Homo sapiens: one gene and its partner. The protein of the gene in region 1 binds, or shares a complex with, the protein of each later gene. Each region holds a gene or a part of one and is shown in the gene's direction. Other genes may lie near its edges.

Region 1 (3,812 bases):
ACTTTGGGAGGCCAAGGCGGGCAGATTACTTGAGGTCAGGAGTTCGAGACCAGCCTGGCCAACATGTTGAGATGTCATCTCTATAAAAATACGAAAATTAACCGAGCATGGTGGTATCCGTCTGTCATTCTAGCTACTTGAGAGGCTGAGGCAGGAGAATCACTTGAACCTGGGAATCGGAGGTTGCGGTGAGCCAAGATTGCGCCACTGTTCTTTAGCCTGGGTGATAGAGTGAGATTCTGTCTCAAAACAAACAAACTAACTAAATAAATAAAAATATAAAAATTAGCCAGGTGTGGTGGCAGGTGCCTATAATCCCAGCTACTCAGGAGGCTGAGGCGGGAGAATTGCTTGAACCTGGGAGGCGGAGGCTGCAGTGAGCCGAGATTGTGCCACTCCACTCCAGCCTGGTAGACAGAGCAAGATGCCATCTCAAAACAAACAAAAAGCCAACTTAATTGTTACGTGATAGTTAAGCCAGTATGCATCCCAGAACCATTAATATGTAATTTTTTGAGATTTTTCTACAGCTGGGTCTGGCAGCCTATTTTTGTAAATAAATTTTATTGGAACACTGCTGTTCATTTACATGTCTGTGGCAGATTTCTAGTTAATATTGCAGAGTAGGTGAACAGGAAACAAGACCTACAAAGCCTAACGGATTACTATATGGCCTTATAAGAAAAATTTGCGGCCGGGTGCGGGGGTCACCCCTGTAATCCTAGCACTTTGGGAGGCTGAGGCGGGTAAATCACGAGGTCAGGAGTTCAAGACCAGCCTGGCCAAGATGGTGAAACCCCATCTCTACTAAAAATACAAAAATTAGCTGGGCGTGGTGGCGGGCTTCTGTAATCCCAGCTACTTGGGAGGCTGAGGCAGAGAATTGCTTGAACCTGGGAGGCGGAAGTTGCGGTAAGCCAAGATCATGCCACTGCACTCCAGCCTGGATAACAGAGCGAGACTCTGTCTCAAAGAAAAAAAAAAAAAAAAAAAGAAAAATTTGCTGGCTGGGTGTGGTGGCTCACGCCTATAATCCCAGCACTTTGGGAGGTGGGTGGATCGCCTGAGGTCAGGAGTTCGAGACCAGCCTGACTGACATGGAGAAACCCTGTCTCTACTAAAAATACAGAATTAGCTGGGCGTGATGGCGCATGGCTGTAATCCCAGCTACTCGAGAGGCTGAGGCAGGAGAATCACTTGAACCTGGGAGGTGGAGGTTGCAGTGAGCCAAGATCGCGCCATTGCACTCCAGCCTGGGCAACAAGAGCAAAACTCCGTCTCAAAAAAAAAAAAAAAAAGAAAAAAAAATTTGCTGACATATGTTCTAGAGCAAAACGTTTGCAAACTGAGGTTTATGAATATAAATTTATCTGGAAAATAAAAAGTGCTTTGCTTTAAAATAAACAAGATTTATAACAGAAATAGCACTTTTTATAATAGTGTAGGTTTGGGATGATCTAAGTCATTAAGGTTTAGTACTTAATGGGTCAAGAGATTTTTCTTTTCTTTTTTTTTTTTTTGAGATGGAGTCTTGTACTGTCACCTGGGCTGGAGTGCCATGGCACAATCTCAGCTCACTGCAACCTCTGCTTCCCGGGTTCAAGCAATTCTGCCTCAGCCTCCCAAGTAGTTGGGATTACAGGCACCTGCCACCATGCCCAGCTAATTTTTTGTATTTTTTCTTTTTTTTAGTAGAGATGGGGTTTCACTATGTTGGCCAGGCTGGTCTCAAAACTCCTGACCCTGTGATCCACCCGCCTCGGCCTCCCAAAGTGCTGGGATTACAGGCGTGAGCCACTCTGACCGGCGGAGATTTTTCTAATGGTTCCTTAATTAAAATAAATTATGTATCCCTGTAATTACCATATGAAGCCCCCCAGAGGACGACATTTTCTTTTTTCCTTTGAAATGAAGTCTTGCACTGTCACCAAGGCTGGCGTGCAATGGGACGATCTTGGCTCGCTGCGATCTCTGCCTCCTGGGTTCAAGTGATTCTCCTGTCTACCCTTCCTGAGTAGCTGGGATTACAGCTGTGCACCGCCACGGCTGGCTAATTTTTTGTATTTTTAGTAGAGACAGGGTTTCACCCCGCTGGCCAGGCTGGTCTCAAACTCCTGACCCGAAGTGATCCACCCTCCTCGGCCTTCCAAAGTGCTGGGATTGCAGGAGTGAGCCACCGCGCCCGACCTAAGGAGGCATTTTTTTTTTTGAGACGGAGTCTCACTCTGTTGCCAAGCTGGAGTGCAGTGGTGTGATCTCAGTGCAATGCAACCTCCGCCTCCCTTGTTCAAGCAATTCTCCTGCCTCAACCTCCCGAGTAGCTGGGATTACAGGCACGCGCCACCACGCCCAGCTAATTTTTGTATTTTTAGTAGAGACGGGGTTTCACCATGTTGGCCAGGATGGTGTCGATCTCCTGACCTCATGTTCCAGCCGCCTTGGCCTCCCAAAGTGCTGGGATTACAGGCGTGAGCCACTGTGCCCGGCCCCTAAGGAGGCATTTTCTTACTGAGTTCCATTATTACCAATTTTCTTTTAGTTAAGTTTGAAATTCAATTATTTGGACTCTTGTTTATAGTTTGCTTTTGTTGTGTGATTCATAAGAGGTTGACAATTTTATGTTGGGTTAGATTTTTAGAATGTATTTACCCAAAGCTCTGGTATTTGATAGAACTATTTTTGTCTTACAGATTATTTGCCCTACCTGAAAACTGCTTACTGCAAAACTCTGATGTTATATCTAAATCTCAGGTCTCATTCAGCAGCTATTGCAATGTTAACTTTGTTTTCTTCTTTATTTTGCAGATGTATGTCCATCCCTGTGACGATGAGGGCTATTCGGAGGAAAGCTGAAACCATTCAAGCCGACACCCCAGCACTGTCCCTCATTGCAGAGACAGTTGAAGACATGGTGAAAAAGAACCTGCCCCCGGCTAGCAGCCCAGGGTATGGCATGACCACAGGCAACAACCCAATGAGTGGTACCACTACACCAACCAACACCTTTCCGGGGGGTCCCATTACCACCTTGTTTAATATGAGCATGAGCATCAAAGATCGGCATGAGTCGGTGGGCCATGGGGAGGACTTCAGCAAGGTGTCTCAGAACCCAATTCTTACCAGTTTGTTGCAAATCACAGGGAACGGGGGGTCTACCATTGGCTCGAGTCCGACCCCTCCTCATCACACGCCGCCACCTGTCTCTTCGATGGCCGGCAACACCAAGAACCACCCGATGCTCATGAACCTTCTTAAAGATAATCCTGCCCAGGATTTCTCAACCCTTTATGGAAGCAGCCCTTTAGAAAGGCAGAACTCCTCTTCCGGCTCACCCCGCATGGAAATATGCTCGGGGAGCAACAAGACCAAGAAAAAGAAGTCATCAAGATTACCACCTGAGAAACCAAAGCACCAGACTGAAGATGACTTTCAGAGGGAGCTATTTTCAATGGATGTTGACTCACAGAACCCTATCTTTGATGTCAACATGACAGCTGACACGCTGGATACGCCACACATCACTCCAGCTCCAAGCCAGTGTAGCACTCCCCCAACAACTTACCCACAACCAGTACCTCACCCCCAACCCAGTATTCAAAGGATGGTCCGACTATCCAGTTCAGACAGCATTGGCCCAGATGTAACTGACATCCTTTCAGACATTGCAGAAGAAGCTTCTAAACTTCCCAGCACTAGTGATGATTGCCCAGCCATTGGCACCCCTCTTCGAGATTCTTCAAGCTCTGGGCATTCTCAGAGTACCCTGTTTGACTCTGATGTCTTTCAAACTAACAATAATGAAAATCCATACA
Region 2 (3,812 bases), on another chromosome or scaffold:
TGGGGTGGGCGGCCTTGAAATCAAGTCTCCATCCACACCTCCACCTTCAGTTCTGCGGCTTGTGCGCCCCTGACCAGGGCTCCAACCTCGCCCCCACCCCCCCGCCGGTACACTCTGTCCTGCCCCAGCTGTGATTTCTTCTGCCCCACCCACCCGGCTTCATCCTGCCCTGGGGCCCGCCCTTCTCCACCGCGCCCATCACGGACGGTTTGAAGTCCCTCTCTTCTTTTTGTGGGGCTTTAGGCTGCCAGGGGCCACCCCTGGGGCCTCCCTTCCCTGGTCCTCTCAGCTCCCAGTACAGTCACCAGGGGCCCGGGCCCGCAGCTGTAGGAGGGGGCGGCTGCTCCTCCACGTGCAGGTGGGGATATTGGCCTCAGCCAGAGCCTCGTCTTAGTCTTGTGGACTCTCAGGGATGGGACGACTCTGCAAATGGGGCTGTCCTGGGCCCTGCAGGGCTCTGAGCAGCGTCCCCGGCATCCACCCACTCGGTGCCAGAAGCACCCCAGTCCTGACCACCACAAATGTCCCAGACCCTGCCCATTGCCCCCCGGTCGGGGTTCCACCGACCCCAAGACACTTCATCCCATCGCCATCTGCCCCCCGCCGCCCCAGCCACACCGATGCCTCTTTCGGGCAGGGTTCCCTGCTGAGGCCGGGCCACAGCTTTCTGCGGGACGGCACCTCGCTGGGCATGCTTCGGGAATTGATGGTGGTCATCCGCATCTGGGGCCTTCTGAAGCCCAGCTGCCTGCCCGTGTATACGGCCACCTCGGATACCCAGGACAGCATGTCCCTGCTCTTCCGCCTGCTCACCAAGCTCTGGATCTGCTGTGAGGCACCCCCGCCCGCCCCTCCCCTCTCCCCGCTCCCCGCTCTCCCCTCTCCCCGCTCCCCGCTCCCCGCTCTCCCCTCTCCCCGCTCTCCCCTCTCCCCGCTCTCCCCTCTCCCCGCTCTCCCTTCTCCCCGCTCTCCCCTCTCCCCTCTCCCCGCTCCCCTCTCCCTACCAAAACACAAGTCCTGCCTGAGCCCCCCGCCAGAACATAAGCCCCTGCAGGTGGCAGTGGCTCTGCCTTGATATCTGCTATTTCCCCAGTTCCTAGCACAGGTCCATGCTCTGTGTGGGTGCTTTTGGGATGGCAGCCACTTCCAGGCACCTGTTTGCTGTCTCTCCTTGTCGGGTTGTGTGTATGTGAGGAGGGTGAGCTGTGTCATTCTTACATCCCAGTGTCTGGAAAAGGCACAGTGCTTCCCACATACTTTTTAAGTGAATGAGGGAGTCTCATGACAGGCCAGAGACGGGGAGAGAACTCTGGGGTCACCCAGCCAGGCAGGCAGAGCCGGGGCCCCGACCTGGTGAGAGAACCCCGGGGTCACCCAGCCAGGCAGACAGAGCTGGGGCCCTGACCTGGTGCTCCTGAACTGGAGGGGCTCCCAGCACGTCCCGGGTGGCCGGGCGGTGCCCCAGTCAGGGGTGCTGAGACTTCCGCCACCTCTCTCCGCAGGTCGCGATGAGGGCCCAGCGAGCGAGCCGGACGAGGCGCTGGTGGATGAATGCTGCCTGCTGCCCAGCCAGCTGCTTATCCCCAGCCTGGACTGGCTGCCAGCCAGCGACGGCCTGGTTAGCCGCCTGCAGCCCAAGCAGCCCCTTCGTCTGCAGTTTGGCCGGGCGCCCACGCTGCCTGGCAGTGCTGCCACCCTGCAGCTCGACGGCCTCGCCAGGTGCGTGTGTCCCTGCATTGGTCCCCAAACACAGGACTCCTTCCTCCGTGTCCTGCCCCGGGACCCCCGAATCCACACGGCTCCCTCCCTGCATGTCCTGCCCCAGGTCCCCCCGAATCCACACGGCTCCCCGCCTCCATGTCCTGCCCGGGACCCCCCGAATCCACACGGCTCCCTCCCTCCATGTCCTGCCCCGGGACCCCCCGAATCCACACGGCTCCCTCCCTCCATGTCCTGCCCCGGGTCCCCCCGAATCCACACGGCTCCCTCCCTCCATGTCCTGCCCCAGGACCCCCCCGAATCCATACGGCTCCTTCCCTCCATGTTCTCCAGTCATGGCCATGACTGCTGCTTCCTTCTAGGTGCCCCTAACTCCATCCCCTAGTGGTGTCTTCTGCTGTGTCACGAACCACCCCCAACACGGGCACCCAGCCCTTCCATTCACCCTCTCCCTTTTTTTTTTTTTTTTTGTCTCCCCGACAGGGTCTCACTCTGTTGCCCAGGCTGGAGTGCAGTAGTGCCGTCTTGGCCCACTGCAACGTCTGCCTCTCGGGTTCAAATGATTCTCCTACCTCAGCCTTCCCAGTAGCTGGGATTACAGGCATGAGCCACCACACCTAGGTATTTTTTGTATTTTTGGTATAGAGGCGGTTTTGCAATGTTGGCCAGGCTGGTCTTGAACTCCTGACCTCAGGTGATCCACCTGCCTCGCCCTCCCAAAGTGCTGGGATTACAGGTGTGAGCCACCGCCCCGGCCTTGCCTTGGTGTTTCCTGATTGTGTGTTGGCCTCGCTGTACAGGGCGCCCTGCCTTAGCCTCTGCCCTTAGTCTCTGGCCCCCCTGGATGTCAGGCCTCGCCGTAGATCCCTCTGTGGATGGAGAGAGACGCCTTAGCATATGGCCCAGGGCCCTGCTGAGCAGACACCTCATCAGGAGGATCTCCCGGGGGCAAGAGGTCACCTTGCAGGGCCCGGGGCTGGCCTTTCTCTGGAATGTGCGGGGTTTGGGCAACCCAAGTGTGCTGAGCTGACCCTGGCTGCCCAGCAGCCCTGTGAGGTGGGACCTTGTCACCCCATTTCACGGTGAGGAAACCCAGCCTGGAAAGGGTGGGACCTTGTCACCCCACTCATCTGGGGTCACGCGGTCAGGAAGTGGCCGAGTCAGGATTTGAACCCAGGCCCGTCAGACCCCCAGCCTGTTTCAGACACACGTTTGACAAGGAGCACATGCAAACCCTCTGAGCCACTGATTGCTCAGGGCTGGAATTTTAGAAAACACAGATGAGCAAAAGGAAGAAAATGAAGTGAACCTCCAGCAGCCCTGCTCCGGGGAAGGCCCCGGCTCGGCTCCAGGACCTCCAGGGAAGGCACCCCCGGCTTGGCTCCGGGACCTCCGGGAAGGCGCCCTGGCTTGGCTCTAGGACCTCCAGCATTTTCTTCCTCGTGCTCACTGTGGGAGGGGCCTCCTAATGAGTCACACACGAGGGTTTGGGTTTCAGGAAAAGACTTGATGGAAAGAGAGGACGGTTACGTCAGAGGCTTGTAAACTGGGAAAATTTCAGATATTTAATGAGAGCAGAATAAGCCGGCCCACCCCCACCCAGACCCAGGTCCCCCACCCACCACCGAGGGCAGCTTTTGCCACCAGAATCTTGTCGTTCAGAGGTCCCGGCACCTCCAGGCCGGGTGTCTGGGCAGAGGTGGTGTGGAAGTCCCCATGTACCTGCTTCTGTCCAGCCTCAAATGGGAGCGTCACAAGCACCTTCCCTGCACCTCAGGCTCCCCGGGCACGTGGCGGACCGACCCTCGTCCCTGTGTGGGCCCCGTCCCCTTTACTGGGTCTCTAAGCCTCAAGCTCCCCAGGCACCTGGGAGACCAACCCTCCTCCGTGTGGGGGGTCCCGCCCCCTTTACTGGGCCTGTCTCAGGTGGTCCCGCACCTCCCACCTCACTGTTCACAGACATCTGGGCCCACCTGGCAGATGGTGTGAGGCCGGCCATTCCCTCCACCCCCGCCTGTGGACAGATGCCCCTGCCGGAACCTGGCCTCGTGGTGCCCAGGCCTCCCTCACGTTCTCCCCTCTCCCGCCAGGGC

The links.
Region 2: MED1 (region 1) and MED16 share a complex: the UniProt entries of both Homo sapiens proteins name them as parts of the mediator complex.

What each region holds. Positions count from the first base shown.
Region 1 is NC_000017.11:39,409,715-39,413,526, reverse strand, and holds part of MED1 (mediator of RNA polymerase II transcription subunit 1), read left to right. Parts: intron 1-2,805; coding exon 2,806-3,812. UniProt on the Homo sapiens protein: Component of the Mediator complex, a coactivator involved in the regulated transcription of nearly all RNA polymerase II-dependent genes.
Region 2 is NC_000019.10:868,944-872,755, reverse strand, and holds part of MED16 (mediator of RNA polymerase II transcription subunit 16), read left to right. Parts: intron 1-637; coding exon 638-830; intron 831-1,502; coding exon 1,503-1,719; intron 1,720-3,809; coding exon 3,810-3,812. UniProt on the Homo sapiens protein: Component of the Mediator complex, a coactivator involved in the regulated transcription of nearly all RNA polymerase II-dependent genes.